Linked DNA regions of Homo sapiens: regions 2, 3 and 4 are each linked to region 1. Evidence: fine-mapped expression QTL. A gene starts in region 1. Each other region holds a variant in brackets. All regions are shown on one strand. Distances are from middle to middle.

Region 1 (8,106 bases):
CAGTGCCTGTCTGGCTCTCACTTGCCCCAGGGCTGTCTCTATGGTGCTCAGTACACTGCAAGCTGTTTGTTTTCATTGCATGCGAAACAATTTGATTCACTGGCCAGTAGTTGTGCTCAGCCACTAAAACTGAATACTTTCTAAAGTACAGAAACAAATAGGCCTCCCCTTCTCCCTTTGGAAGACCCACAGGACTAGCCATACCCTGCTACCACCCCCAGCCCCAGCCAGATCACTTCCCTCTGACCAGGCTGGAGAGTGGAAGGCAAGGACACCCAACATGCTGCATTCCAGTACAGCTCTTCTGAGTCAAAAAGGGAGCTTCCAGGGTCTATGGAAGTCCTTTGAAAACAGAGGTGTATGGGTTTTTTTTTTTTCTTCTAATGTGTACTCTGTAAGAGTAGAGGCCTACTCTTGGTACTTGCTGTGTTACCAGAGCCCAGAACAGAGCCTGGCCCAAGGGAGTGGCTCCCTAGGTATTTGCTGAATGACTGGATAAATGAAGGAACAAACAGGCACTCTCCCTAAATTAGCAGAGTTCTTCTTCTCAAGAAGTACTATTGTGCTAAGAATGTCTTCAGTTCACTTTTCTCTTGGGCACAATCTTAGCAAAAACTGGGAATTGCATCATTAACCCCAAGATAGACAGACAGATGCATACACACACACACACACACACACACACACACACACACACACACACACACATTTTTTTTGAGATAGCGTCTTGCTCTGTCACCCAGACTGGAGTGCAATGGTGCCGTCTCAGCTCGCTGTAACCTCCGCCACCCGGGTTCAAGCGATTCTCCTACCTCAGCCTCCTGAGTAGCTGGGACTACAGATGCATGCCACCACACCCGGCTAATTTTTGTCTTTTTAGTAGAGACAGGCTTTCGCTATGTTGGCCAGGGTGGTCTCGAACCCCTGACCTCGTGATCCACCCACCTCAGCCCCCCAAAGTGCTGGGATTACAGGTGTGAGCCACTGTGGGCCCAGCCCCCAAGGCATATATTAAAGCTTTTTGGAGTAAATTCTAGAGATCAGCTATTTGCTTCTTGTTTGTATCTAAGAGCAGTAAGCATTGGGTAAAATGTTGCTTTTAAGAGTCCCAAGAGAGGCACTTATCATGTTCATTACTATAGTTTTCTTTCTACCTAAAATAAAATTTGGATATTCACTTTGGTGGGACCTAATACCTGAAGCTGCCATTGCAACAGGACATGTAGCTTGGAATTGCAAGCCACATCTGGGTTCTACCTCTAGACCCAAATACTGCCTGCACTACAAACTCCCTGGAAATGGAGGCCCAGAAAAGGCTAATCAGAATGAGCCAAAAGGATGCAGCTTGCAAGTTCCAGAAAGATCAGTGTTTTTGAGTGTAGGCTGGCAGGGCATGGGTCCAGACTCAACTCAGAGCCACTGACTCTAAAACCAGGTATCTCTGCATTATAGCTGTTTAACAGGCACCACTTTTTCCTAGGGATTTGGAATACCTGATAATCATCAGTAACACTTTCTGAGCACTTAGCGTGAGGAACCATCCTAAGTCCTGCACAAAAGCAATCAGTTAATCTTCAAGGGAATTATCCGAGCTGAATTATTATCATCACCATTTTATAGACACAGAAACAGAGAAATTAAATAACATGCCCAAGGTTTAGGTACATCTGGGAGCCCAATAGCCCAAATTTGGGTCTCCTATATTTGGGTTTACCACTTCATCAATTCTTTGCAGTAAAGAAGTTGAGAAGCTGTATATAGTGTTCATTAAAAATAAATATGTAGTTTTTTATATATTGTTTTTCTATCATCTCCTACTATGGACTTTTCCTCCCTGCCCAAACACTGGGTGCCATCAACACCGAGCCCATGCATACGGTGAACAGCATACATTACTTCTTCCAGAAGGCACTGCTTTGTTCTCATCTACAAAAATCCTTCTTCCTTCCTATAGACAAATGACTGGTTCACATATCATGACTCAATTTATATTCAACAATGTTCATTTGCAGTGTAATTATTCTTCCTAATTAGGCTGCTCTGAAGACAAATGACTGCCCCTCCCCATCCCCCTCTCCTACAACACACAATGTCTTTTTCCTGATATAAAATGTTTGCTGCACCCTTTGCAAACCACAAGAAGCCACAGTCTGCTCTCCATGTGACCACTTAGAGAAAAATACTATTATAAGATAGTGTTTTATCTGATATTACTTCAAAATCAGAATCAGATTTCTAACAGATCAATAAGCTTATCACAGTATGACAGCAAAAAGAAATGAGACTCTTGGATTCTATTTCTCTTTCCTATCTTAAAAAACATTTCCTCTTCCCGCGAACATGTGTTCTCTATCTCTTAAATTTAAAAAGGAGTAGTTTCTAAAAGAGAACCAGTAGGAAAGAATCAGGAATACCAGCAAAAGTCAACATCAAAGAAGTCAGTATCTGATCCTCTCTTAAACCTAGCAGGAGTGGAGCTCTCTGGCCAAGGGGTAAGGCAAAAGCAATGTGCAGGTTATAAATGTCCCTTCAAGCTCAGTTACTCCGGTTTACCTCTCTGGGGTGAGCCTCTAACAGCTCTGGCTCGCCGGAATCTTTCCTCCCTCGGCTCCAGCACACACTTTCCATAGCGGCCGCGTTGCAATTTCAAAGAGTTCTCCTTTCCACGTAGGTCACCCACCGATGGTAACCTACATGCACAAACACACTCGCACAATCACAACAGAGAAAATGGGACATACAGGAAATGGCCCGGGTGGAGGCGAGGACGGGGGTGGGGATAGGACTTTGTCTTTACTCTGGTGTTGCTCCCATTGAAACAAGCACATGGACTTTCATGGAACTCATGACCATCCTGAAATAACAGAAAAGTCGAACGGGATTGAAGAAAATCCTTTGCTTTTCTAAGTTCGAAGAACACTGGGCCGCTGAATGGAAGGGAAAAGAAAAAAAAAAACTGTGTGCCTAAAAACATCCAGAAACACACGCAGAGTCTCCCCAGTCCTTTGCCCAGCCCGTGGGCTCAAGCCGCCCATCCCAGATGCGGTCTTCCCCACTCCACGCCCACCTCTTCCAGCCCGCACCCCAAATCACTGAGCTGCCCACAAAAATGCAGTCCAGATTTGAGAAGCAGCTGACGTCTGTGGCCAGAGTGACCCACACGCCACGGACCAGGGACAGCAGGGGCGACCACGGGGCGGCCCCCAGGGAGCGGTGCCAGGCGCGCTGGAACCCGGCGCCCAGCTGCGCCTGGGACCCACGCGCCGCCGTCCGAAGCCCGCCAGCGACGCCCAGAGAGCAGGGCTCGCGCCGGCTTCCCGAGGAGACGCTGTTCCCGGCACAACTTTTTTCCACTTCTGCGGCCGCCGGCGGCGCTGAGAAGCAGCTGTTCCCTTCCCATTCCCAGCACCCAACGCCCATCCCGCAGCACCTCCGACCGCTCGGCGCGGTCTCCCAGGGCGCCGAAGCGAAGTTCCCGCGCCAGCCGCGGCTCAAGCAGCCAGGGCTCGGCCGGCCGCAACGGCTCCCCATGCGCCCGCGCGGGGCGCCCACCTGGCCGGGCCCACCGGCTCTCCCCTCCCGCAGCGCGCGCGGGCCCGACGCCTGCCACTCACCCGGCCCCAGCTCGGCGTCTCCGGCTCCGAGCCCGCAGCCTTCCCCAAGTCAGGGCTTTCAGTGACGCCTCCTCGCAGCCACCTCGCTCTTGCCCCCGCTGGCCGCGCCTGGAAGAAGGAGGCGGGAGGAGAGCGAGAGGAGAGCGGGAGGAGGCGGCGGGAGAGGGGGGCAACGCAAGGGAGGGGAGAGGGTCCGCGGCGCGGGGGAGGAGGCAGCGAGGCGAGAGAGCGCCAAGCTCGGCGGCCGCCCGGGCTAGCACTCGGGGAGAGGGAGGAGGAGGAGGGGCGGGGGCAGCGAGAGAAAGAGGCGGCCGAGCCGCCCTGCCCAGGCCCCGGCCCCGCGCCGCTGCCCAGTCACCATCGCCGCCTCCGTCCCGCGAGCGGGCCGGGCGTCCGGGGGAGGGGTCGGGCTCGGGGCTCCCGGCGCGGCGCGCGGGGCGGGACGGGGGCGGCGGGCGGGCGGACCAGGCCCGGCCTCCGGAGGGGAGTGTCCTGCGGGTCCGGGAGGGAGTCGGCGACAGGGGATCCCCGAGAGGGGGTGTGGGGGCCTGGGAACCGGTCCCTGAGCCCGCCGGGCAGCGGCGGCGGCGTCTCCCGGGGTCCTGCGAGGTTCCTCCGGGCCGCACCGGGGAAGCTCCCGGAGCAGCTTCGAGCAGCCCTGCCGGGAGGGCCGGAGGCGGAGAGCGGCGCTGACGGAGCCGGGGGAGAGAGGCCAGGCTGCTCCGGCGGAGAGCGGGCCCCGGGGCGCTAGGAGCAGTTCCCCCAGACCCGGGCCCAAGCGGAAAGAACGGCCGTCTGGTGACCCCGGAGAGTCCGAAACGGGAAAGGGGCCAAGGGGCGCCTGGACCCCCATCCTCGCCGCCCTCTTCCGGAGAGGAGGCTCCGGACATAAGTTCCCGTGCCCTCTGAATATCTAGGTGTGGAAACTCAATTCCAACAGTCACAAAGATTATTCCTAAATAGAATGCTTGGTGTCCTCAGCTTCCCTGCCCTCAAAATTACGGTTTCAGGATGATTTTCGGAGGCGCTTTAGGAACAGCCTGAAAAGGCATTCTTGTCCAGAGAGGGGATGCTTTAACTCCCCAGCTCCGCCCCCAGGGCTGGGAGCAAAGAACAGAGTTAAATGGCCATGAATTCAGGTGCCAGTATTGTTTGTGATTGAACTGTTAGGACGTGGCACCTCTCTAGGCAAACCCATCTTGTATTCCACCCCTCGCCACCCCCCCGCCCCCCGCCCAGTCAAATGCTCCCATTCCCAGTTTCTCAGCCCCTTGTCTGGGACACCTCTATCCACCAGTCGCCCAGATTCAGATTAGCAGTCAATTTTGGGCCTCGCTCCTCCACTCCCGGTAGCCAGTCCCATTAGTTCTTCATTTTTAATGCCTTTCCAGGTGCCATGTCCTTTCAAGCCCACTGCCGCCTTTCTGGTTCTCGCTATCTGGCACTGGATGGCGTGAGCGGCCTCCTACCGGTTCTCTGCTGGGGTCCTCTCTACACTTGCATCCATATGCGCAGGCCTACAGGTGAATGGCTCTAGAATACCCCTCAGGCAGGCCACTTCCTGTTCTAGAAGCTTTCTGAGGCACTTTGCCAGAGAACATTCTGAATTCCTTAAAAATCATCAGTTCAAAACCATACAACAACTGCACCTCCATACGCACTTCTCAGAGCCTGGGACTCTCTTTAGATGGGGATCCTCCCCTCCCCCCGAGAAAGATCCATGCCTGTATCTACACGAGAGTTGCTGATGCTCTTCCCAGAGCTGGAATGCTCTCTTTCATCTTCTCCCGCAGCCAAATTCCACTTATCTTCATTGAAAATGAAGTTTGCAGTACCACATTTTTGCTCTAAAAGGATATATGTGCTCTTTCCATTTTGTGAAATCACACACTAGAAATAACAGGGCTTGTGGGGAAAGTAGGGTTAGAAAATGACTCAGAATCTATGTAACATTGTAACCACAGCACTAACAAAAACTAACCATTCCAAAAAAAATACCAGTAGAGCTAATGAACTGTGTTAAATTCCTAATAAATACTATAGTACATGTAAATATACGACTTTACTTTTATAAAAAGATGAAGATAACTGTTGAAGGGGAGTTGTTTGAGGCTGCTGACTTGAGATAAACACAAAATGTACAAATAAGAGGAGAACTCTCTGTCCTGTCCCCCAACCCACATCCCACAAATCCTTCCAAGGTAGAGAGGTCAAGGCCAAATCAATCCAAGAGAAAGAATGTAGGGTGAAATGGGCCTACAGCACCCTGTGTTCTCTGTAACTAGATGCACCCTGCTGTGTTTTGCAGCTGTAGTTACTTGGTGGTGCAGAAACATTAAAGTGCTGGGAACCCTTGAATATGAACCAACACAACTCCACCCATTTTACTAATATCTAATAACTAATGAGTTAGTTTGTGTTATCCATGCTCTCATTACAGAAACAGCCTTGATAACAGAGTACACTGTACTTAATTCTATGTTTAAAAAGTAGACTAAGGCTGGACATGGTGGCTCACGCCTGTAATCCCAGCACTTTGGGAGGTCGAGACAGGCGGATCACCTGAGGTCAGGAGTTCAAGACCAGCCTGGCCAACATGGTAAAACCCTGTCTCTACTAAAAATACAAAAATTAGGCCAGGCACAGTGGCTCACGCCTGTAATCCCAGCACTTTGGGAGGCCGACGCAGGCGGGTCATGAGGTCAAGAGATCAAGACCATCCTGGCCAACACGGTAAAATCCCATCTCTACTAAAAATACAAAAATTAGCTGGGCATAGTGGCGCACGCCTGTAGTTCCAGCTATTCGGGAGGCTGAGGCAGGAGAATCGCTTGAACTCAGGAGGCAAAGTTGCAGTGAGCAGAGATCACGCCACTGCACTCCAGCCTGGCGACAGAGCAAGACACCACCTCAAAAAAAAAAAAAAAAAATACAAAAATTAGCTGGGCATGGTGGTGGGCACCTGCAATCCCAGCTACTCAGGAGGCTGAGGCAGGAGAATTGCTTGAACCCAGGAGGTGGAGGTTGCAGTGAGCTGAGATCATACTACTGTATTCCAGCCTGGGTAACAGAGAGAGAGTCCGGCAAAAAAAAAAAAAAAAAAAAAAAAGTAGACTATACTTCATCCCACACATTTACTGAGCACTTACTATATGCCAGGGACTGGCTGTTCTAGGTACTGGGGATACATCAGTGAACAAAAAGAAATGCAAAAATGTCTGCCCTCATGGGTTGTGGAGACTTGAACACACATCACCAGATGGTTTGTATTATTCAGGATATATGTTTCATATGTGTGTAGCTTGAATTGATGCATGTATATTTTAATCTATTGAAGACTAGGGTTGAGCCTTACTTACGTCTTTGTATCTTCCCCAGTGTCTGACACAGTAAACTACTATTGGGACATGTAAATTAGGGCAATTATAGCCATTTAATACTCTGTGTTATGGAATTCACAGGAGAACTACCTGTAAAATATAAAACTAATTTTTCTCAAAACTGTGTTTGCAGATTTTTGGGCAAAAATCAAGACATGTATCCCCAGATGGGATAACTTGGGTCTAAAGAGCAGATAAATTACACTTAATATGAAGCAAGAAGTTAGGGATGGCAAAGTAGGGAAGAATAGAGAAGGAGACAGATGCTAAAAAGTGTAGTTCATGAAGAAAGTACATTCTAAGTTCTGTGGAAAGAAAGAGAACAGCAGGAACTTTGGGATATCGTGAATCCTGCTTTTATCATGTGCTTCAGACACATTTTCAAGAAGCACTCACTACAAGGCATAAACGAAGAGGAAATTAGGAGAAATTAAAGGGTGTCTGCACATTTTGGTCAAATGACAAGGAGGCCTTGGAAGAAGATTATTGAGCCAGTTGGATAGGTCATGCGGTGAAATTACAGTGATGTCTGGCTAAAATGTATGGTACTGAACTTACTTGCCTGTGCAAATCACTCTATTCTTTGAATGTCTGAACACTGTACTCCACCTAGAGTACCTTGTTTCAACACGGCTAGCAATTTTTCATATGTGAACACTTTGCATCCTATTTTTTTCTGAGTAAGAATCTGCTTGGAGTTAAATAAAATATGCATTTATAACAGACAGGAAAGCACTGATATATTTTCATGATTGTCAGCATACTGACTATTGATTAACTTTAAGTTTGCCTATTCATCTTCATTAAAACCTACTTCCCAAATCCACCACCACCCACTTTAAGAGATTAATTGATATTTCCTTTTTCTTTCTTTCTCTCTCTCTTTTTTTTTTTTTTTTTTTTTTTTTTTTTTTTTGAGACAGAGTCTTGCTCTGCTGCCAGGCTGGAGTACAGTGGCGCAATCTCCACCTCCCGGATTCAAGTGATTCTCCTGCCTCAGCCTCCCTAGTAGCTGGGCTTACAGGCGCACACCACCATGCCCTGCTAATTTTTGTATTTTTAGTAGAGATGAGGTTTCAGTAGGCTGGTCTCAAACTCCTGACCTCAAGTGA
Region 2 (8,092 bases), 140 kb before region 1:
TCTGCACATAGTAGGCATCCAATACAAGTGCCTAGGACTGAAATTGAATTCTGACCTACCTTCTCATAACATGTCTGCATTTTTTTTACTTTTTACCAAGGGACTACTAAAGGCTGATGAATTAGGAAATGTGTCCTATCAGTGGTATTTTAAAACTGATTCAGACACGGAACTGTTGGACCTGACTTCTGGTGGAGCATCATCTGTCTGGACAGCCAGAAACCAAGAGCCTCCCTTTGGCAGCCAGAAGTCCTCAGGGCCTTGTGCTCACCAGGAACAAAAGGAAGGGCTGTTCCCTCTACTCTCCCCATGCCTCTTTGAGGGTGTTCTGAAGGTGGGCAACCAAGGTCACACCACCCCAGAGAAAGCCCGGTGACTTTTTCAGGAGAAAAATTCTGAGGCAGGGCTCCATGTGTGCCAGGCATCTCCGTCCATCTCCCTATGCTTCCCAAGCCCCTGTTCTGATTTCTCTCCTCTCAGTGGCTGACCTTGTCTTTTGGGCCTGAGAGTGAATGAGTAGGGCATGAGATCAGTCATGGGGTTGGGCTATGGTCATAACCTTGATGCTTAAGGTGATTTTTTACCCTGTGTAAAAAGCAGTAAGAATACCAAATCCTGGAGAGTGATCAGCTGCATTTCGTATGCCCACCCATACTTCCATGCATCAGATTTATGACAAAAGCAATTATATAAGCAGCAAAGGCAAAACCCCCACGTGTCTGTCTCTGCTTTTCCTTTTATTGCTTTTTTTCATGTTGTCCTCTTTCACCCTCAATCATTGCTCACTTCCAAGAAGGCTGAGCCTGCATACACCAGGCCCTTCACCGCCACTGCCAGCGCCATTCCCACGACCACACACCCTTCACCCCAGCCCTGCAGAGGCAGGGTTCAGCCCCAGGGCAATCTATCTGGTCAGACTGGTGGGGCAGCTTGCTAAGGCTGTCCTGCTGGACTGAGACCCATGCAGGCAGAGGGCTGGAGGGAGTAGAGTGTGAGAGCCAGCCCAGCATAAAGGGAAGACTGGAAGATAGCAGGCAGCTGGCCGGTGGCTCATGCTTATGGCAGTCCCTGTGGAATAGGCCCAGCCAGCACAAGTGAGCCAAATCCTGAGCTCAGTTTAATGGCTTCGGTCCCAAACCTGAGTCACTGGGGATTCCATGGACTTCTAAGAGAGCCCTACACGCATTTCCAAAAACAAACTGCTTGATGTTGTCATGGAAAACCTGGATCTTTGCATTCTATGGTTTCACGATGGATTACATCCAGGTCACAACCTAAGGAAGACAGCTGGCAAAAAGCCAACCCTGCTGGCTGATCACCCGGCTTTTGTAATGAATCCCAGAGGGATGCAAACTGATGTGTGTTGCTGCCTCTGCCAAGTCCTTGGACAAGTTCTCACCTCATGAAGACTAATCAACCTGTGATTTACTCCGCCAGGAGAATCTCAGAAGCCACCTGCAATCAACACTCAACGGCTAGAAGCTGCCTCCAGAAAGAGAAGGAATGGAAAATGTGTGTGTCAGGGGAAGGGGAGGGGGAGGAAGGAGCTCTGTTTTCTTGTCAATTTGACTGCTCTCTCCTGCCTTTTAAAAAAATGATCTGAGGACACCCCTGGTTACACCAAAGCCACAGGACTGCTGTGCACCCTGAGCTCCAACACAGGCAGGCTCTTAAGGACAGGGAAGGCCCCTACACACTGTATTTGTGTTTGATTGGAACAGAGTAAGGTCAATTCTAAAAGCTACAAGATATCCCTGTTCCGTAGAATGCAACAAATCCGGGAAACAAATAATATACTAAAACTTGCCAAGAAAGCAGAAATACTTTGATAATGATTCTATAGCTACCATTTATTATTTACTGTGTGTTAAGCACTATGCTTAAGCCTTTCTCATATATTATCTAACTTAATCCTCAGAACAGTCCTGAGGTATAAACCTATTGTTATGCCCATTTTACAAGTGAGAAAACTATGGTTCAGAAAAGTGAGGCAAATTGGTCCGTGTTTCACAGGCACATTCAGGTGAGGCCTGAACCCTCATTACTGAGTGAGTGCTGAATGTCAAGGACATGTGCACAGTATTTAGAAAGTATCAGCCGGGTGTCCACCTAATGGTGCCCTGAAGGCAGATCCTGCTATCTGGATTCACATAACAGGCAATGATTATATTTCATTACTGCTTAAGTTAGCCCAGAGTTTGGGATTTCCATTGAAGTAGCAGATTCTTTCACACCCAGTTTCTAAACTCAGAATATCAAGATTTTGATTATTTATGCTGTGTTTTTTTATAGACAGTGAAGGCTACACAAGCCTGTGGCCTATTTATATCTTAAAATTAGGTGTAGCAAAAGAATATGCTTACGATCATTTCTCATCCAGTCACATTTTTGCCAAAATGTAAGTTGTAAGAACAAACACAGCCTGAGTGTATTTCTAAAGAATCCTTTTGTTGCTCTGGCAACAGCCTCCTTTCTCACCATTTGTTTCAGTGTTGAAGAGATCCAGGGCTGAGGGAGAGGGGGCATAGGGAGAGAAAAGGCAGATGCTCCCAGCTGCAGCAAGTCCTTGCTGAGGCTGGGGCTGACCAGAGGCTATCACAGATTGGCCAACGGGAGAAAGCAAGCCAGCCCTTTCAGATGCCAGTATGGCAATGTCCTCAGCCACAGATTCAAGAACCACAGCTGCCCTTTACATTGGCTTGATGTGCATGATGAGACCTCCAATAGGGGAGAAAGTGCCCACTGAATCATGAGAAGGATAGCTCAGTCCCTCTTTTTTATGATTTTTTCTCTGAGGGGTGATGCTAGGCTGGAAGGAGAAAAGAAACCAGTTCTTTCCTGTATTTCAGCACTTAGTCTTAGATCAGTGGCTCCTAGACAGCAGTCAAACTATGCAGGAATCTCTGCCTTGTGCCAATTTAAAATTCTGAGTAATTTCAGAATTTTTGAGATGCTGCATAAGTAACAGGGGTAGGGAGGAAGTTAAAGCTTCCAGACTGGAAAGAGGCAGAAGATCAGCACCAGCCCTCAGCAGTGCTCCCACTTCTTTCTCCTCAACCTTCCTCCAAGAGACCTTGTGCAGAGAGAAAAGTCAGAAAAAACTCACTGGAGGCCAGGATCAGTGGCTCACACCTGTAATCCCAGCACTTTGGGAGGCGGAGGCAGGTGATCACTTGAGGTCAGGAGTTTGAGACCAGCCTGGCCAACATGATGAAATTCTGTCAATACTAAAAATACAAAAATTAGCCAGGCATGGTGGCAGGTGCCTGTCATCCCAGGTACTTGGGAGGCTGAGGCAGGAGAATCGCTTGAAACTGGGAGGTGGAGGTTGCAGTGAGCCAAGTTCCTGCCATTGCATTCCAAGCTGGGCAACAGAATGAGAATCTGTCTTAAAAAAAAAAAAGAAAAGAAAAAGAAAAAGAAAACTCACTGGAGTGTTCAAATAATACCTGAGAGCCATACTAATCTTTGTGCAATAATGAACACCTTGCCATTAATGTGATGCACACCAGAGTACCAAAATATGTTGGACTAATCCACACTCAGACATGGAATTCACTCAACTAACGCCTTATTATAAACTGCATGTAAACAGTCTTGAAGGATACCTATGCTTTGCTTCTGAATGACTGCCAAAGATAGGTTTAGTGTTATGGCCCAAGATGTCCCACCCCTTCCAGTAAATGGCCACTGGTTTGCTCGAAGGTAGTTAGATCACCATCAAGTTCCTCAGGATAAGAAGCACTCCTACATGACAAACCAGGAGTCTCATCTACATACCAGCAAATCAATAAAGCCCATAATAAAGGCATGAAATCATCAAGGATGTGCAAATACAACAGAGCGAGGGAAAACTAAACAGAAATCCTACTCTCTGGTCAACCAGGGCTCTTCAACAGGATTAATAATTAGTGTGTGCTGGCTTCCCTTGAGCTACATGTTTGACTCTTCAAAAGCCTTCAGTAATACTTCCCTGCAAAAGTTTTAAGATATACACATGCATACACACACACACACACACACACACACACACACACATGCCCCTGAGGCACCGTGTGTCCAAGGAGAATAAAGCAGGGATATTTCTCTGACAAGAAAATGATGAATCAATCTTGAAACCCACCTTTAATATTTCTGGGTGGTGAGATGCCAAGCTGAAGGGGAGAGTCATCTTCAGAAGTGAGTCAAAAGGGGACAAGGAGCTTCACAGAATCAAACTCTAAGCCTAAAAAGTCCAAAGGAAGGTCACATTTTCCAATCTCCCTATTTTTCAGAAGGAGAACACTGAGACCCGGGGTGGTACATTTATCTCAAGTGAAACTGCTAATGAGGAGCAATGCTGAAATACAGAATCCTGGTCTCCCAAATTCCATGAGTGCCTGAGTCACTTGTGGTGTGGCTGATCCTGGCAGATGTAGAGATGAGGGACCTGAGACTTGTCCCTTTGGGCCAGAAAGTTTAAAGGGCCTGGTGTCTGGATGGTGTATTCCCCCATGAAAGCAAATCAGAACTAAGGAGCAGGCCCTCTGTCATTTCTCTTGGCCCATTACTCCCCATCCCCCACCTCCACCCTACACAGGGGCCTCCTAAGAT[C/T]TGAGGAACAGTAAACTTTATCTTATCGGCTGTTTGGGAAAAAACTGTCATTTGATCTGTTTATTTGGAAGCCAGCCCTGCTGAGCTCAAGAGTTTGCTATGAGGCCAGCTAGAGTGAATTCGTTTGGGGGCTGCTGCTTTACAGCCCTGGACATATGGCTCAATGCATAGCTTTATTTTGAAGAATCCTGTGCACACAGCTCTAGAATTTGCTGAGGGATGAATCACCTGTGCCCTTCATTTAGTGTTGTAGGTGGGTAACTTTGTCCTGTTAGAGTCTAGATTAATGTCTTGGTTAAAAAGTAAGCACTTGTTTTCTGAATATCAAAGCAAGAGTCTACTCTACTTCTTTGGGGATGTATTCAAACTCAGCCATGTGTTTTTGTGTGTGAATTTCTGTCACCCAGAACAAGAACCTTGAATCAAACCTAGACAGATTGTTACCCCATTGGTTCAGGACTCACCTTTCAAACCCATGCGGGGAAGCCTACGAAAATACTGGTAGCAGTGGATGCTTTCCTGCAGCTCACAACCTTCTCCCTGGGACCACTGTAAAGAGCTCATGCTTTTACTTTCCACCCATTTCTAATAAGCTCGTTAGTGAGAAATTCCCAGAAAATGGAAGAGTTCGCTTGCATTTTCTGATCTGAATGCACAGAACATTCTGTCAGGCTCTAGGAGACAGACAATTTAAACCAGAACATCACTAAACACAGAGCAGCTGATACTAATTCCTTCCCAGCCCGTGTCTTTCCCACCCAAGCTGAAATCATCTGGGGGCTGGAGCTGAGAGTGGATGCGGAAAGCAGGCTTGCTGCTTCTTAATGAGCGCCCCCGCTTACATTCCTCTTAGCATAAAGTGCTTGCTGCAGGTGGGACTCACGCTCTCCATAATTCCTCAGGGAGTTGCACTGAAGTGGAGAGCATGCTTTTAATTTAATGGGAAAAACAAAAAGCAGGAGTAGTTACTCAAACTAAAACCAACAGCTTAGACCCCGAGGAAATAAGCAATGAGGAGGACCACGTAAGACCAGAGAACAAGCCTGTCTTCCTGTGGGGTAAGACAGGGGAAAGAGACCCATGCGAGCAGCACACAAACGTCGCCTAGAACGGAAGGGGCAAAGGAAACCTGAATAGACAGAAAGTGGTCTTCTCCAAAACTAGCAGGAAGCGAATGCCCAGTACCAGAGTGCGCTGCACCGGCAGCTCTCCATCCCTCCATCCCACCGTGCCCGGGGTCCTGCCTTCTTACCTGCAATTCCTTGCAACAGCCCACAGACATTGAAGATGCTTTTCTTCATGATGCTCTGTACACACATGGTGAAGACGGACACCAAGGCCACCATGCAGAGAATAAAGATTCCCACAGCCAGGAAAATAGCTGTGGCCTGCCAGAAGCCGCTGGCGATCTCGCCGAAGCTCTCGGCGTAGGGCCCGCACAGCGTGTCCCGCTGGAAGTGCTGCACCCCTGGGTTCCGGATGCAGCGGGCGTAGATGCCCAGGGTGGGGTGGTAGGGCTCCGGGGAGCCCCCGCCCGGGCCCGCCGGCTCCACGCCGCCGCGGCTCCTCGCTTTCCCGATCAGCCAGTCTGCACTCATGAAGGCAATGAGCTCGGCAAAAGCCACCACAATACTCAGCAAGGTCCAGAGCATCGAGCGACAGGTGACAATGACATGACACATATTGATGTTCCGGGCGAAGAAAGAGTCAGGAGTCCACGGAGTTAATCAAAACAAGAAAGTCGGTGGGGAAGGAGGCTCGGGCGGCCCGGGAAGGAAGTCGCAGCTGCAGTCATTCACTCCCGCCGCCGGCCGCGTTCATGCTGGGGACAGCGCTCCCGGACCCAGAGCACCGCCTGCGGCCTCACCTAGGGGAGAGGGAGGGCGGTTAGCAGCGCCGCCAGGCCCCGCCCCGCCTTCCCGCCGCGCAGCGACACCGTCCAAGTCCGGCCCGTGCCCGCAGAACCCTGCCAGCAAGCCCCGGGCCTGGCTAGCATGCCAGGCGGTTGTTGCACTGGCTGCGTTTGTTTCAAGTTCTTCCTGACCTCACTGCACTTAGAACTCTATGTGGCAGTTAACCTTATCTCTAGGGAGCACCATGGAAGGAGGCGGCCAGTGCCAGGTCCTGCTCCCAACCCAGGGGGCACTGTCCTGGTTGCTGCTGCACTTTTAGGACAGGGCTCCCGCTCCCTCATCTTTTACTGGAAAAAGTCAAACAGCACAGGGATCCAGAGAGGAGGAGGCAAGACTGGCAATCAACTCTATTAGTGGATGTTTTGTTTTGTTTTTAAGTTTGCAAGACTTTTTGCCTGCTGTTTTGGTACTAGGTGAGCTAAGTTTTGAGAAACTTGGACCAAGCGCTTTTGCTTAACAGTAGAGAGTAGCAACACCCCGCTTTTATTTCCTCGAAATTAAATTACTAGCAGAGACATAAGTGTGTTTGCTTCATAGGTAAATAGGAAAGAATCACATGTAAAAGAATAAACAAAACATTGCTCCCATACCTATACTTTATCCATTTTTCACAGGGTGATTTTTAGACAAAATAATTTACACTAATTAAAACTCAGAGGGGAAAAAAAAAAAACCTTAAGAGTTCATGACTTACTTGGGGAAATTATTTTTAAAAGACATTAATGACCGTTAACTAAGCATCATTACAACTGAGTGGACTTGTTGACAACAGAACCTTGTCTATGAAGAATGCATCCCTTGAATTGTCCCAATTCATCCCATGTGCCTCTGCCTAAGCTTCGATTCACCCCAGGTCGGGAACTCAACATGCCCATTGTTTCTCATTTCACAGAGGCCTCATTCTGTCTCCACGGAGGAATGACTTCATTACCAGAAGACATTGCTCCAGTGGCTCAAGCCTTCTTCAGAGGAGTCTGGACCCTGAAATGGGGGCCAGCAGGGCTGGTTTGCAGCCCCATTTTCTGCCCCATTCCAAGGCCAGGAACAATCACATAGCTCACATCTGGGCACATGGCCCTGCTCTGAATGATTAGATCTCATTAACCGAGGTCAAATCAACTCCATGAGAACTGCAAAGAGCCCCCTGGCATGTTGGGAGTGGGGTGAGGCAGGGAGTTATCGAAGAGGAAGAGAAGCGGAGAAATAAGGAAGCCCAGTGTCAAAGCTTAAAATGCCCGTTTCTACACCCTGCACCAGCTGTCTGCCTGCTGGCTGACTTCCTAGTGAGCATGTGACTCTACCCATCCCTTGAAACATGATGTATTTTAAAATCCTCATATCATGGTAGTTGCTATACAAGATGCTATTTTGGGGACACAGCTAGTGCACTACTAGGAACATATGCACTTAATTGTCAGGGTGTGTGTGCGTGTGTCACAGCGCTGTGCCAAGCACTGGGTAAGGGAAGGGAGTCCATCAGGTATGGGTTCCAAAGCCAGCTCCAGCACTGACCATATGGATGCCTAACTTCTCAGAGCTCCCTCGTCTGAGCCGGTAAGGGTAGCCTACCTCACCAGATTGTTGCA
Region 3 (8,106 bases), 170 kb before region 1:
TTTGTTCATTTCATGTGATTAAGCCCTTTAGAGATGAAATAAGATTGGTTAATTTTAAAAAAATTGAGGATGGTTAAAAAATAGAAAACACCTTACTTTGATACATTTTAAAGTACAATAGTATACATTTATTTAGAGTAGACTAATGTGTTTAAAACATGAGTTGTTTTAAATACTTTTTTATTGAGCTAAAAAGTTTTATCTCACATATTAAGTATTACAGAAAGTGAAGTATTTTGGCTAGAATTTTAGGGCATATTTTATAAAGCAGCATGCCTGTAATATTGGTGGGTATTTTTAAACTTTAGGACTTTATCACAGTATGTAGAGAGCTAGAAATAAATCTAGAAACTTTCTAAGCCAGGTATTGCCACTAACCTGTCTTATATAAGCAGATACCTCTTATTTGAAGATTGTAGGAAAATAGAGAAAGACTGTTCTCCAGTTTTCTCACCCCCGCTGTGGGTTTTATATTTACAATTTAACTTTGGGGTTTGGGTAAGACAAACATTTAATGTATAGGATTTTGGCCAGGTGTGGTGGCTCACGCCTGTAATCCCAGCACTTTGGGAGGCCAAGGTGGGCGGATCACGAGGTCAGGAGATCGAAACCATCCTGGCTAACATGGTGAAACCCCATCTCTACTAAAAATACAAAAAAAAAATTAGCTGAGCATGGTGGCGGGCGCCTGTAGTCCCAGCTACTTGGGAGGCTGAGGCAGGAGAATGACGTGAACCTGGGAGGCGGAGCTTGCAGTGAGCCGAGATCTCTCCACTGCACTCCAGCCTGGGCGACAGAGCGAGACTCCATCTCAAGAAAAAAAAAAAAGAATTTTCATTAGTGCTGGCCGTGTTTCAAATGGCAAGGGAACATGGGAACTATCATGTGGCAATGTAGTGAGTGTTAAACTTTGTGTTTGTCCAAATCCTGATTTATTTTTCAGTTCATATCTTTCTGGGCTTGACATGGCTGATGGTGTAGCTGAAACCCTCCTAACACTAAAAGCCATTTAATCTTTTCTGTAATAGGAGCAGAAAATAGTTAATCATCCACCTAGTAATATAAGATTACTGTGAATATTATCTTCTATACATTAAAACAGTTCTAGTTTGTAGAATAATACCATACAAGTTTTATTTTTAAATTCTAGTTATTTTCAGTGCTTACTTAAATGTAATTCTAGAATTCCTCCACAACTTTTAATATTTTGTATGCCAGTGATTCTCAAGATAAATCATGATTGTAGTAGTTGTTACTGTTGGCAGTTTGTAGTAGTATTCAGGTATTTTGGGGATGGGGGAAAACACCAAAAATCAGTGTCTTTTATCTGGTGATCACTGTGGTATCTACAGTATTCTAGTCTCCTGCACAAAAACTGAACCCACTGGGCCTATGCATCCCTCACACTTTTTTTCTAGTATAAAAGCAATACATAATGTGTTGTAGAACAATTAAAAATTCAGAAAGTGATACATGAGAAAATAAAAATAAATCCTTAATTCTGTCATCTTGGGGTACCTCTGCTAATATTTTATTGTCTTCCATTCTTTTTCTATGCATATGTGTTTTGTTTAGTTAAGAGATATAAGCAATATGGATTTTTAAAAACCTTATTTTCCCCTCACTTAGCTTTATGTCATAATGGCGCAATAGTTTAGTTTTTTAAATTAACTTTTTTAATTTATAAAATTAATGTATATTTCAGTATAAATTATAGAAAATATAAGCAAAAGAAATAACCAAAATTCTCATAATTTTACATCCATGAATAACTTCTATTAAAATCTGGTTTATATCTTTCTATTTTTCTAGGAAGACAACTTCCTAATATTAAAAATGAGATGACCCCGTACATCCTTGTACATCCTTTAGGGATGTCTACCTACTCCTCAAAAGCCCCACTTCTTTGGGTCCTTAAAGTCCACATTGGTACTGGATGTCATCTGGCCATAGTGGACTCATTCCTGGCTTATCAGTTTTTTATTCTGAATGTAGATATGTCTAGAACTCTACTGTTCCAGAATTGGAACATAAGAGGTAGCCATTTTCTGCCATGAGGAAGGAATCACCAAGAAAGCTGGTCTGCAATGAAAATGAAGAATGAAACAGACATAACAGGAGATGTAAAATGAATGACATAGAAAAGATCTTAGTGGCTTTCCTTTTCCTTTATGGAGCCCTACTTCTCACCCTTATCCCATTATCCTCATAATCTTACCGCTTTTTCTCCCTCAACTATCTTGAATTGGTTTCTTATTACTTTTAACTGGAGGATCTTAACACAACAGTTTATCTTATTTCAGTTATGATATAAATATGTATTGAAGATTTTAATATCTCTGAATATATTTCTGTAACATTTAGTATAGCTATATAGCTAACATCATATGTATGTATCATAAAGTCTTGTTATTCCTTTAGGTTCTGATTTTCAGGGTTTTAAAGTTATAAATAATTTATCAAGGAATATATTGTTGCTAAATTTGGGGACTCGGGCTTTTGTTTTTTCTTTAGGACAGATTGCTGAGTTAAAGGGTATTATGCATAGTTTTTAAAGCACCTTTCATGTGCTTTGCCAAGTTGCTCTCCAGAAAAATTTTATCCATATGTAACTCCATCAGCAATGTACGGAAAGGCCTCTTTCTTCACATCCTTGGCCAGCATTGGATGTTCCTTTTCTAAAAAGTCTTTTATCCCAATAGATTTTGACAAATCAGGTTTCTTTTCTGAGCATTCTGGTTTCACATGGCTTATGTGCTCACCCAATGCTACCGGTTTGTTTGTTTGTTTTTGTTTTTGCTAAATAGGAGTAACTGAGTACCCTGCATCCACTGAGAAATCTTCTGCTTCCTGAAAGCTCTAAGGTAAAGATAATTAGCTGAATGCTCTGTTATAACAGGATGGAAAAAGAAATGGTGGCCTCAGGTAGCCAATCCACTGAGTCTCTCCAGGTAAAATTACACTGGTTTCGACAAGTTATGTTACCTTTCATAGAATGTAATTTTAAAATGATATTAGTCTGGGTGGGTAGTATTTTCTTAGTTTTTTTCTAATAATAGCTTATTGTGGGCTTAATTATATACCAGTGTTCTGTACTAAATGCTTTATATACATCACTTAATTTTCATACCAAACTTGTGATATAATTTCTGTTGTTGGCTCTGTTTTTGTAGAGTTCTAGGAAATTACCCCAAGGTCACTCAGTGAGTGGTGGTGGTGAAGGGCTGGAGAGGGATGATGAGAACAGGCAGGTCCCCTGACTCCTGCCAAGCGTGGCTGCCCCACCATGCCGCCTCGTTCCAGTTGTCTTCCCTTTCATCCTTCCACATTTCCAGTCATTCATGTCCATCCTTTAGGGACAACAGATACTAGAAAAAAAATCAACAAAAAAAATTTTTACATATATTTTTGAAGTCTCCAGACCAAATGCTAACACCTGCCACCTAAAGGTGAGTACCTGCTGCCCATTCTTCAGCAGTGTAAATTTACTAAAGGGTCTTTGGCGTTTGTGTGTTTGGAGAAACTTTAGTCGAGGACAAATCCTTATTATTAGGTTAAATATGCTTCTTATGTGATTATAATAGTTGCTTACCCTGAATGAGAGATTATTTATACTAAGAAAACAATAAAAACTGTCAAAGCCTATCATTTATTTTCCCACTGTCACATACTTAATGAATTTCTTGTGTCTGTTTTCAGGATTGAGCTAAATCATGATTGATAAATTGAGACATATGGTGTCATCTTCAAAATTATGAAAAATCACTAGGTGTTTTCTCTGAAAGGGAGGAAGAAGCAGTGTTTTCATCAGTTGTGATGGTGAGGCCCTTTTGGAGTTTTATTTGGAAGTTATTCTAAGTGTTTACAATGTAGAGATATTGCCCAGGAGTTTGCATTGGCTGCCTTCCCACCTTGTGCATTCCAGGTAGAAGGAAACAACATAGCAGTTTGAGTGAGTTGCCTTTGGTGTCAAACATGTATCTGAGCTTTGGCTTTTCCGCTTATTAGCTTTCTAACCTGGGATACATTATTTAACCTCAGTTATTTAAGTGACAGTTATCTGTAAAACAATAGTAACAGTTTCTATCTCATAGGATTTTGATGAATAAATGAATTTTATGAAGTATTTAGCATAGTATCTGCCCATAGAAGTTGCACAATAACTAAGGACACTTACCATCTCTCAGGTGTATTGATGACTCCCAAATCTCTCTCTCTCCTTAGTATAGTCCTAGCTGCACACAGGACTTCTACATTGGCAGCCTAAGCTGAACCTCCTCACCTTCATTGTCCCTGCTTCTTCTGGAGTCTTCATCTTGGTGATCACATCACCTTCCACTCAGTGTCTACGCTAAATACCTGGCTGTCATCCTAGACTCTTTCCTCTCCTTCCTCTCCACTTCTGATCAGTCACCTGCCCATTCTTTTTCCCTAACATAGAATTCATCCCATTGACTGTCCTTTACCATCACTGCCTTAATTCAGGCTTTCGTCTCTTGTGAATAAAATCATAGTGGTTTCCCCTAAACATAGGCATTTGGACTGCCTACCTGTAGGTGTTCAATTTTTCAGGATGTTTGGCTAGAAAAAGCTAAAAAGCTGCTAATAGCAATGTGTTACTTGATTGACTTTTCTTTCCCATGTGGTTTTGGTTTCACTACTTCCTCTTTTTGTGTGCTTTTATCTGTGTCCTGTGTACCTTAGTAAAATTGGCAGTTCTTGTCTGCAAGACTTATCTTGCACAACTGTTCAGGGTAAGGAGAGGAAGTTGCAAGGAAGAAGATAGTAGTAGGGGGAGCAGTGGGATGGCTCTGCCAAATGACTCAGCTGCTAGTGAGGGCCTCTGAAATAAAGTTATTGGTTCTTACTGCTTTGAAGAGTAAAGTTTGCTTTGATACCCTACCCTTCATTGTTTGAGAGTTGAAAAAGATTGTTTGAAACTA[C/T]TGAAATAATATCCACATAAAATATCCACGTTAGTAAGGACCGTTGTAAGTGGTTGTTTGGTTAAGCAAAAACTTTAAGGGGGTGTAGGTGTAATTTGAATGCAGCATGTTCCAGAAAGATCAGTGTGGAAAGTGGACCTAGTAGCAGAATTGCTAGATAACAACTAAGGATGGGAAGCGGGGGAAGCACATGGGAGGATTCCCCAGCTTCTGCTAAAATTCAACCAGGGTCCATTCTCTGTGTGGATTAACTTTTGGGGAATACAATAACAGCTGAAAAAGCAATGGAAATTTTCTAATTTTTCTTGGGTTATTCAAATCATGATTATTTGGAAAACTGTGTGTGGTTTTTTTAAACTGATATGGGTAACTTTGTCAGCTTTTATTAGAAACCAAAACATGAATCTAATTTCAACTGTCATAGGCCCTAGATCAGGGGAAGAAACTGCCTTTTTTTGGTATGAAATAATAAATGCTTCATGGGATACAGAGAGTTGAGAGTTGAGAAGGGCATTTAGTGTCATTCTTGAGTTTATAAATTAGAATTCCACCTCTTCTGGATGAGGGTTTATATGGCCAGGATTACCTTCAGGAAACATGGATGTGGAATGGCACCGTATCATTGGCTTTTATTTTTAGGGATGTTGTTGGAAGAGGAGGATGTGTCTTTCAGTTAACTTTTCCCCTTGTCATTGTTACATATTTATGTTTGAAAATCCCTTTTTAATACTTCGGAGCATTTTCATATTTCATAGCTTTACTTTAAAATATATGTTTACAATACTTGAGATGTTTTTTCCTATTTACAATTGTGTTGATGCTTCTTCAAGGAAGAAATACATACTTGACGTTAAAGAAAGATAGCCCAGGGTAGGGACATATATGTTACTAGTGAATGGGATAGTTTAAAATACCTGAATATCTTTTTTCCATTCATCAATATTACATGTAAGTTAGTGTTTAAAATAAATGTTGACTGATTGATAGGTATTTTCTTGATCAGATTATACACATCATATTGAAGCCAGTATACTCAGACTTGAAAGAATAAGAATGAATTGCAAAATCTGGTTTAATTAAGATCTGGGGAGGGGAGCACATAGTGAAAATACATATGCACAGGAACCAAATCAATGCTAGACAATGTATTAGTTTACAATATAATAGGATAACTACAAGTTTGAAGGCTCAAATTGAGTCCATCAGCTGTAAATACAATTTTATATTTGGCTCAAGTGGCTGTTGAATATCAAGTGGTGCCGAGTCCCTCCAGAGCACCTACTGACCCCCTCAGCCTTGGAAGGAGTTTCACCACAGTCTCAGAAGAAATCCCAGTCGTGCCTTTAACTCTTTTGGCCCTTGGGAGTCATTGCAACCCCAATACAAATGCCGGCCCAGGGATTTCCAGTGGCCACAAGTTATTGCACAGAGAGGTCTGTTCTAAGCCAGACTCTTACAGCTAAGGAGGTGTGAGATTAGCCCTTAAATACTGGTCTAGCATTAGCATGGTCTATAAAAGCATGTTAAGAAATAGCTCCTCAGTGATTATGTACCAGCTACTAGTTATCCTACTAAGAGAAAAGGCAACATGGCAGCTTCACATTTCACATGAAAGACTAGCATTAACTGGGCCTGGCGTGCGGGCTTAACTTTGACATAACACTAGCGATTATTTTAGACCCAGGAAAAAATGATTTCATACCAGTCTTTTCTTCACATAAGATTTGTGTAGCATTAAAATTATGGGTTACTGAATAAGCCATGAAGGCAAAAATGTGGAACTCTCCTTGCCAAAACAGAAACAAACATCCCTGTTTTGACTCCTGTCCAGTTTCCAAAACAAAACAACAAAACATACATACACCTTTGTTATTGCACATCTTTCACACAAACTTGTGTATGTATAATATACATATATATTTTTAAATATGCTACACATAAAAAAAGACTATGGCACTTTACAGAATATATGTTTAACAAAGATCATTACACCACAGATGTTTGAAAACTATACAAAAACCCTTATACAATTAATGCAACATTGTTTGAATTATTAGCACACAGGTTTAAAGAATCCACAGAATCCAAGGCAAATATTTCTGCCTCAGAGTTCATTGAGAAGCGCAGCCCATCCCATCCCGTCATGAGACTTTCTTTAAGCCAATTTCAGGCAAAATAAATAAGACTTTCCTGGTAGTAATAATGGTCCTATTTATTAGAAAAATAAGTGTGAGCCAACAATCTATTTTTAACATTTCTTTCTAGCATATTCCTCATACCCAGTGGTTTTTAAACAGCTGTGTGGAAGAGCATGGTTTAGACTAGCATGATTTTAGATGGTCCTTTCATCCCAAGCCTGGCTAATGGATTCAAGGTTTAAAAGTCCCAACATTACCTTTTTACTATTTACTAAGTCAGTGTTTAGGTAGTTTTTAGTGGTTTGGGGTTCTGTGTGTGTGCATGCCTGTGCTTTTGTCTTCTGTTGCATTCAGATTAATAACATAAACACTATCGAGTGAGTTTATTATGGCCAAGAAGTCACACTCCCTTGTGACTGTTCCCAGGTTGATCTAGAGGTACACTGCCACCTTAGCCAAAGAGCAGGTGATGGACATGCTCGGAGGATCCTGTGAGCTTAGGACTTAACTTGTAAGGACACTGAGATTGTAAACCTAGTGTCAGAAAATGGTTTCTCTATCCAAGAAAGAAAGAAAAGTGAGTCTTCTGATAAGTTTATGGAAAAATTTTGTGTTTTTCATCAAGGTTTGAGACTTGGTTAGAACATTATAAATGTACACACAGAGACAGAAGCTTTGTCCAGTGGCTCCTCCAGCCTCTTTCTGTGTGGTGTTAGAGATATGGTTAAGGTTTCCTAGGCTGCTATGAAGATACCCGTTTTTTTCTTCACCAAAATCACAGGATTTACATCTCACTCACTTTGAATTTTGGTTCAGGAATGGGAAACTCATTAAGGCTAGTTCCACACCTCCCACCCCTTTTGCCCTTAGCCCTTAATCTGTGAGAAGATGGTTTCTCATATAGGCCAAACACCAGAATGTAGTAAAACTGCGGTTGTCCCATTCCATCTCTGTATAATTATCTGTTCTGCACCAAGATACGGTGCTTTAGACTCAGACAGCTTTAACATGATTCACTCAGGGCA
Region 4 (8,106 bases), 190 kb before region 1:
CGTTGGCCTGCCTTGCTAGATTGGGGAAGTTCTCCTGGATAATATCCTGCAGAGTGTTTTCCAACTTGGTTCCATTCTCCCCATCACTTTCAGGTACACCAATCAGACGTAGATTAGGTCTTTTCACATAGTCCCATATTTCTTGGAGGCTTTGCTCATTTCTTTTTATTCTTTTTTCTCTAAACTTCCCTTCTTGCTTCATTTCATTCATTTCATCTTCCATTGCTGATACCCTTTCTTCCAGTTGATCGCATGGGCTCCTGAGGCTTCTGCATTCTTCACGTAGTTCTCGAGCCTTGGTTTTCAGCTCCATCAGCTCCTTTAAGCACTTCTCTGTATTGGTTATTCTAGTTATGCATTCTTCTAAATTTTTTTCAAAGTTTTCAACTTCTTTGCCTTTGGTTTGAATGTCCTCCCGTAGCTCAGAGTAATTTGATCGTCTGAAGCCTTCTTCTCTCAACTCGTCAAAGTCATTCTCCATCCAGCTTTGTTCCGTTGCTGGTGAGGAACTGCGTTCCTTTGGTAGAGGAGAGGCGCTCTGCGTTTTAGAGTTTCCAGTTTTTCTGTTCTGTTTTTTCCCCGTCTTTGTGGTTTTATCTACTTTTGGTCTTTGATGATGGTGATGTACAGATGGGTTTTTGGTGTGGATGTCCTTTCTGTTTGTTAGTTTTCCTTCTAACAGACAGGACCCTCAGCTGCAGGTCTGTTGGAATACCCTGTCGTGTAAGGTGTCAGTGTGCCCCTGCTGGGGGGTGCCTCCCAGTTAGGCTGCTCGGGGGTCAGGGGTCAGGGACCCAGTTGAGGAGGCAGTCTGCCCGTTCTCAGATCTCCAGCTGCGTGCTGGGAGAACCACTGCTCTCTTCAAAGCTGTCAGACAGGGACATTTAAGTCTGCAGAGGTTACTGCTGACTTTTTGTTTGTCTGTGCCCTGCCCCCAGAGGTGGAGCCTTCAGAGGCAGGCAGTCCTCCTTGAGCTGTGGTGGGCTCCACCCAGTTCGAGCTTCCCGGCTGCTTTGTTTACCTAAGCAAGCCTGGGCAATGGTGGGCGCCCCTCCCCCAGCCTCGCTGCCGCCTTGCAGTTTGATCTCAGATTGCTGTGCTAGCAATCAGCGAGACTCCGTGGGCGTAGGACCCTCCGAGCCAGGTGCAGGATATAATCTCGTGGTGCGCCATTTTTTAAGCCGGTCCGAAAGGCGCAATATTCGGGTGGGAGTGACCCGATTTTCCAGGTGCGTCTGTCACCCCTTTCTTTGACTCGGAAAGGGAACTCCCTGACCTCTTGCGCTTCCCAAGTGAGGCAATGCCTCGCCCTGCTTCGGCTTGTGCACGGTGCGCGCACCCACTGACCTGTGCCCACTGTCTGGCACTCCCTAGTGAGATGAACCTGGTACCTCAGATGGAAATGCAGAAATCACCCGTCTTCTGCGTCGCTCTCGCTGGGAGCTGTAGACCGGAGCTGTTCCTATTCGGCCATCTTGGCTCCTCTCCGCATGTTTAGTTTTCTAAAGAAACAGACAAACTGTTCTCTAGAATGCTTGTGCTATTTTACACTCCCACCAACAATTATGAGCAATTTAGTCTCCACTTCCTCACCAGCATTTAGTGGTTATTACTTTTTATTTTAGCCATCCTAATAGGTGTGTAGTGATATCTCATTGTGGTTTTGAACATCTTTTCATGTGCTTATTTGTCGTCTTTATGTCCTCTTAGTAAAATGTCTCTGCATGTCTTTTATCCATTTTCTTAATTTTTGTATTCTGTTGAGCTTTGAAAGTTATGTATATTCTAGATGTGAATCCTTTGTTGGATATATGGTTTATAAATATCTTCTTTCATAATTCAGCAGAATTGAAAATAAACATTTAAAAAAATGTAATAATAGGCCAGGTGCAGTGGCTCACGCTATAATCCCAGTTTGGGAGGCCGAGTCAGGTGGATCACGAGGTCAGGAGTTCGAGACCAGTCTGACCAACATGGTGAAACCCCGTCTCTACTAAAGATACAAAAAGTAGCCAGGCGTGGTGGCACGCACCTGTAATCCCAGCTACTCAGGAGGCTGAGGTAGGAGAATCGCTTGAACCCAGGAGGCGGAGATTACAATGAGCCGAGATCATGCCACTATACTGCAGCCTGGGCAACAGAGCGAGCTTCTGTCTCAAAAAAAAGAGTAATAATAAATTCAAAACTCATAAGCTTAAAAAATGTACAGCTTAAAAAATGTACAGTCTGGAATTAAACACTTGAGACTCTGGAGTTTGGTTTGCTTTTGAATTTAGACTATGCCATTTATAAGCTGTGTGACCTCGGGCAGATTACTGAATGTCTCAGTTCCTCATTTGTCAAATGGGGATTTAAAACAGCATCTATCCTATTGGGTGGGTTGTGAGAATTAAATGCACTAATACACATAAAGAACTTGAATATTGCCTGGCTGATAAGTGTTGAATATGTGTTAGATATTATGCTATTTTTAAAAAGTTTACATCAACTTTTGCCTAATTACACTTTTTATTACTTTTTAGTGGTTGGATTTCATCCCTTACTGGTCTCAACCAAAATATTCCTGTTGGAATCATGATGATAATCATAGCAGCACTTTTCACAGCATCAGCAGTCATCTCACTAGTTATGTTCAAAAAAGTAAGTGAAATTTTATGTCTAAATTTTTATAGTGAACGTGATGTAAAGTTCTCATTTTCCTATTTTGCTATAATTTGGTGTAACCTGAAGCCATTTTATCGTTATTGTATGAGTTTGCTCTCTGAGGATTACTTTTTACAATTAAAAGTTATGCATAAGTACATTTTAGAAAATTGCATCACATTTTAAACTTCAGTAAAAAGGGAATATTTTAAAATCATTTTAACTGAAGGCTTTCATGAGTTAAAGAGTCAGCCTCATTTTTAAAATTTGGATTTTTAAATATACTCTAAATTTCTTTTTTTTGATATGAAGGATATTAGCCTGTTAATAAATAGAAGTAAAATTATTATGTGATATGTACATTTTATTCATATATATCTCTTAGGTTTTTGTTTTGTTTTTTAATTTTTTATTATAAATTCAGAGGGAACATGTGCAGGTTTGTTACATGGTTATGTTGCATAATGCTGGGGTTTGGGCTTCTATTGAACCCATCACCCAAATAGTGAACATAGTACCCGATAGTTTTTCAAGCTTTGCTCTTCTCCCTCCCTCCCTTTTGGGTCCCCGGTGTCTGTTTCCATCTTTATGTCTGTGTGAACCCTTTGTTTAGCTCCCACTTCTAAGTGAGAACATGCAGTATTTGATTTTCTGTTAGTGTGTTAATTCACTTAGGATAATGGCGTGCAGCTGCATCTATGTTGCTACGAAGGACATAATTTCATTTTTTAGGTGGTGTAGTATTTCGTGATGTATATGTATCACATTTTCTTTATTCAGTCTACTATTGATGGACGCTTAGGTTGATTCTGTGACTTTGCTATTGTGACTAGTGCTGCAATAAGCATATGAGTGCAGGTGTCTTTTTGATAAAATGATTTCTTTTCCTTTGGTTAGATACCCAGTATAGGGTGATTGCTGGGTTGAATGGAAGGTCTATTTTTACTTCTTTGAGAAATCTCCATACTGTTTTCCACAGAAGTAGAACAAATTTATATTCCCGTCAACGGTATATAAGCATTCCATTTTCTCTGCATCCTTGCCAACATCTGTTGTTTTTTGAGTTTTTAATAATAGCCATTTTGACTGGTGTGAGATGGGAATTATTGTGGTTTTGATTTGCATTTCTCTGATTGGTGATGTTGAGTTTTCTTCCATTTGTTGGCTGCTTGTATGTCTTCATTCAAGAAGTGTCTGTTGATATCCTTTGCCTACTTTTTAATGGGGTTTTTTTTTTCTTGTTGATTTGTTTAAGTCCTTTATACATTCTGGATATTAGTCCTTTGTCAGATGCATAGTTTGCACATATTTTCTCCCATCCTGTAGATTGTCTCTTTACTCTGTTTATTCTCTCTTTCTTTCTTTTGGTTTCTTTTCTCCTTCCTTCCTTCCTTCCTTCCTTCCTTCCTTCCTTCCTTCCTTCCTTCCTTCCTTCCTTCCTCCCTTCCTTCCTTCCTTTCTTGTCTTTCCTCTATCTGTCTCTCTTTCTGTCTTCCTGTCTCTTTTGTGAAAGAGAGTCTCACTCTGTCACCCAGGCTGGAGTGCAGTGGCTCAATCTCAGCTCATTGCAATCTCCACCTCCCGTGTTCACACAATTTTCCTGTCTCAGCCTCTTGAGTAGCTAGGATTACAGGTGTGCACCAGCATGCCTGGCTAATTTTTATATGTTTAGTAGAGATGGAGTTTGACCATGTTGGCCAGCCTGGCCTTGAACTCCAGACCTCAAATGATCAGCCCTCACAAAGTACTGGGATTACAGGCATGAGCCACCACGCCCAGCCTGTTTAGTGTTTCTTTTGCTATGCAGAAGCTCTTTAAGTCCCATTTGTCAATTTTTGTTTGTGTTCCATTTGCTATTGAGGTCTTAGTAGTAAATTCTTTGTCTAGGCCAATGTCTAGAAGAGTATTTCCTAGATTTTCTTCTAGGATTTTTGTAGTTTGAGGTTTTACATTTAAGTCTTCAATCCATCTTGAGTTAATTTTTGTATGTGGTGAGAAGTAGGGGTCAATTTTATTCTTCTGCATGTGGCTAGCCAGTTTACCCAGCACCATTTATTGAATAGGGTGTCCTTTCCCCATTGTTCATTATTGTCAGCTTTGTTAAAGATCAGTTGGTTGTAGGTGTGTGGCATTATTTCTGGGTTCTCTGTTCGATTGGTCTGTTTTTGTACTGGTTACCATGCTGCTTGCTTACCATAGTCTTTTTTCTTTTTTGAGACAGAATCTTGCTCTGACGCCCAGGCTGGAGTGCAGTGGCAC[A/G]ATCTCGGCTCACTGCACCCTCAGCCTCCCCAGGTTCAAGTGATTCTCATGCCTCAGACAGCCAAGTAGTTGGGACTAACAAGCGTGAACCACCATGCCTGGCTGATTTTTGTATTTTTAGCAGAGACGGGATTTCACCATGTTGGCCAGGTTGGTCTCTAACTCCTGGCCTCAAGTGATCCGCCCGCCTCAGCCTCCCAAAGTGCTGGGATTACAGGTGTGAGCCACTGTGCACTATAGTTTGAAGTCAGGCAATATGATGCCTCTGGCTTTGTTCTTTTTGCTTAGGATTGCTTTAGCTATTCAGACTCTTTTTGGTTCCATATGAATTTTAGAATTGTATTTTCTACTTCTGTGAAAAATGATGTTGGTAATTTGATAGGATTGTATTGAATCTATATATTGCTTTGGACAGTATGGTCATTGTAACAATATTGATTCTTCTAATCCATGAATGTGGATGTTTTTCCATTTCTTTGTGTCATGTGTGATTTCTTTCATCAGTGATTTGCAATTCTTCTTATGGAGTTCTTTCACCTTCTTAGTTAAATGTATTCTGGATGTGTGTAGGAGTGTGTGTGTGTGTGTGTGTGTGTGTGTGTGTCTATTGTAAATGGGATTGGGTTCTTTATTTGGTTCTCAGCTTGAACGTTGTTGGTGTTTAGAAATGCTACTGATTTTTGTATGTTGATTTTGTATCTTGAAACTTTTTGTTGGTTTTTTGAGACAGAATCTCACTCTGTTGCCCAGGCTGGAGTGCAGTGGTGTGATCTTGGCTCACGGCAGCCTCTACCTCCTGGGTTCAAGCAATTCTCATGTTTTAGCCTCCTGAGTAGTCGGGATTACAGATGTGGCACCTGGCTAATTTTTTTTGTATTTTTAGTAGAGATGATTTCGCCATGTTGGCCAGTCTGGTCTGTAACTCCTGACCTCAAGTGATCTACTTGCCTTGGCCTCCCAAAGTTCGGGATTACAGGTGTGAGCCACCACACCCAGTCTGTATCTTGAAACTTTACTCAAGTTAGTTATCAGGTTTAGGAGTCATTTAGGATTTGTAACTGCCCAGTTGTTTTAGCTACACTTCTTCCTGTAGAATTCCCATGTCTGTTTTCACAGCTTTAAAAAAAAAATCATTACATAGAGGAAGGTAAATTAGTGTTTTTATTTGTTTATTTAAAGTTTTATTTTGTCTTGGATATATGTAATTTTGATATATTTTATATGTATTCAAACATGATATTGAGACCTTGGGAATAACACCTATGTTTTAAATGAAAAAGACTTTTTGATAGGTCTCACTTTAAAGAAAATAAGTCCTTATAATTTTTTTTACCATTTCATTACTTGAGACTATGTATGAGGAATGCATAGAAATAATTTTACCTTATATTTAAAACCACTTTTACTCTTTCAGTACTTTACTCAGACATTTGTCTTTTATCCTTCTCAAAACCCTACGAAGGTTAGACTGTGTCCGTTCTTCCATATTTTCTCTATTTGAAATTTTTAACTTCTCTTCTGCACCAAACACACATACCATTGACACTCAGCTCTCTAATGTTACTAAATCCCTTTTCCAGTTTTCCTCCTCCTTAACCTCTGTAGCTTTCTACACCACAGATGGCTCCTCTGCTAAGACTTTGCAATGATGTTCTAATTCTCTTGACTCTCTGGCTATTCTTTCTCCTCCATTTCTTCATCCAGTTCATAAATTAAGGTCTTAAATGTAATCGGCTCTTTGTGCTATGCAGTCATTTTCTTTGGGAATTTCATCTTCCCTTATTATTTCAGTTTCTTCTCTACCTAGATGACCTAGAATCTTGGAATTGGAAAAGATAATGCATTGCATAAACCTTTAGTTGCATCTTCAATTGGTCATTTTCATCTCCAGTTGTTGATTGATGTCATCTTCTCACAGTAATGCCTCATAAACTCTTCAGTTTCTTAGTGATAGATGTTCCTTTTGAACGTTCTGAGTAATATTCAAGAAGCATTTATTAAGACCACATATTGTATAGATTCCATTATTGTGAAATGTATAAAATGGGCAAATATATAGAGACAGAAAATGTATTACAGCTTGCCTGTGGCTTATGGGTGGGGTGGGGAGTGAGGGTAATGAAAGTATTCTAAAATTAGGTTGTGTAGATATTATAGTCACAACTCTATGAATATACTAAAAATCATTGAATTGTACACTTTAAAGGGTAAAATGCATAGTATACAGATTTTATCTTAATGAAGCTTTTTTTTTTGAAGAAACACTTATTGAATACCTACTAATGAGATGGCACTAAGCACTTTATGTAATTCCATTGAACATTTTTGTCAGTGCTGTGATTGCTTCTGTCAGTGCTTCCATTACTTCTTTTTTGAGACAGAATCTGTCTGTCGCCAGGCTGGAGTGCAGTGGCGCGATCTTGGCTCACTGCAGCCTCCGCCTCCCGGGTTCAAGCGATTCTCCTGACTCAGCCTCCCAAGTAGCTGGGACTACAGGCATGCGCCACCACACTCAGCTATTTTTTTTTTTCTTTTTTTGAGATAGAGTCTTGCTCTGTCACCAGGCTGGAGTGTGATGGCGTGATCTCTGCTCACTGCAGCCTCCAACTCCCTGGTTCAAGCAGTTCTCCTGCCTCAGCCTCCTGAGTAGCTGGGATTACAGGCATGTGCCACCATGCCTGGCTAATTTTTGTATTTTTAGTAGAGACAGGGTTTCACCATGTTGGCCAGGATGCTCTTGATCTCCTGACCTCGTGTTCTGCCTACTGGGATTACAGGCATGAGCCACCACGCACAGCCACTTCCATTACTTTTTAATTCACTTTCTTAGATACCTTTTTAGTATCTTTTCCATTTCCAACCTCAGCTAATCCAGAAATTCTTTTTACAGGTTACTTATATTCCCTCATCCTTCTCGCAGTCCATTTAATATATAATTCCTATATTAACCTTAAAAAAACCCCAACAAATTGGCACTCTGCAGATTTTTGACGTGGATCTGGGATTGGGAACGGCATTTTGGTGGCAGTGCGAAGAAGGGCTACATTCAGAAACACCAGCATTGCTAAGGTTGTAAAAACACACTACATGCCATAAAGCCATCAAATGGGCCTTAATAACCTAATGATGAAATCACTTTTATTTTGCTCAGCCATACTCTGGGCCCTATGCAGAACACTTCACCAGTATTATGCCATTTTGTCC

The links. PIP is the estimated chance that this variant, and not a neighbour inherited with it, causes the effect.
Region 2: its variant is fine-mapped to the expression of LHFPL2 in whole blood (TOPMed, PIP 0.98).
Region 3: its variant is fine-mapped to the expression of LHFPL2 in blood mononuclear cells (TOPMed, PIP above 0.99).
Region 4: its variant is fine-mapped to the expression of LHFPL2 in whole blood (INTERVAL, PIP 0.91).

The regions. Positions count from the first base shown.
Region 1 is chr5:78,644,885-78,652,990 of GRCh38, forward strand. It overlaps LHFPL2 (LHFPL tetraspan subfamily member 2), which reads right to left and starts at 3,888. Exons shown (of 5, transcript NM_005779.3): 1 at 3,615-3,888. It also overlaps the pseudogene HMGB1P21. RefSeq lists silencers at 3,137-3,196, 3,487-4,426.
Region 2 is chr5:78,503,939-78,512,030 of GRCh38, forward strand. LHFPL2 (LHFPL tetraspan subfamily member 2) reads right to left here. Exons shown (of 5, transcript NM_005779.3): 4 at 5,846-6,460. The coding sequence starts at 6,275. Among named protein-coding and RNA genes, the nearest start is that of LHFPL2, 140 kb to the right of the region's middle. RefSeq lists enhancers at 932-1,440, 6,180-6,801 and silencers at 6,044-6,133, 6,414-6,463. The variant C/T (reference allele first, on the strand shown) is at 4,594.
Region 3 is chr5:78,479,233-78,487,338 of GRCh38, forward strand. It overlaps SCAMP1 (secretory carrier membrane protein 1), which reads left to right. Exons shown (of 9, transcript NM_004866.6): 9 at 1-1,507. It overlaps LHFPL2 (LHFPL tetraspan subfamily member 2), which reads right to left. Exons shown (of 5, transcript NM_005779.3): 5 at 5,998-8,106. Among named protein-coding and RNA genes, the nearest start is that of SCAMP1, 120 kb to the left of the region's middle. The variant C/T (reference allele first, on the strand shown) is at 4,944.
Region 4 is chr5:78,456,723-78,464,828 of GRCh38, forward strand. SCAMP1 (secretory carrier membrane protein 1) reads left to right here. Exons shown (of 9, transcript NM_004866.6): 8 at 2,523-2,640. Among named protein-coding and RNA genes, the nearest start is that of SCAMP1, 100 kb to the left of the region's middle. RefSeq lists an enhancer at 609-1,218. The variant A/G (reference allele first, on the strand shown) is at 4,903.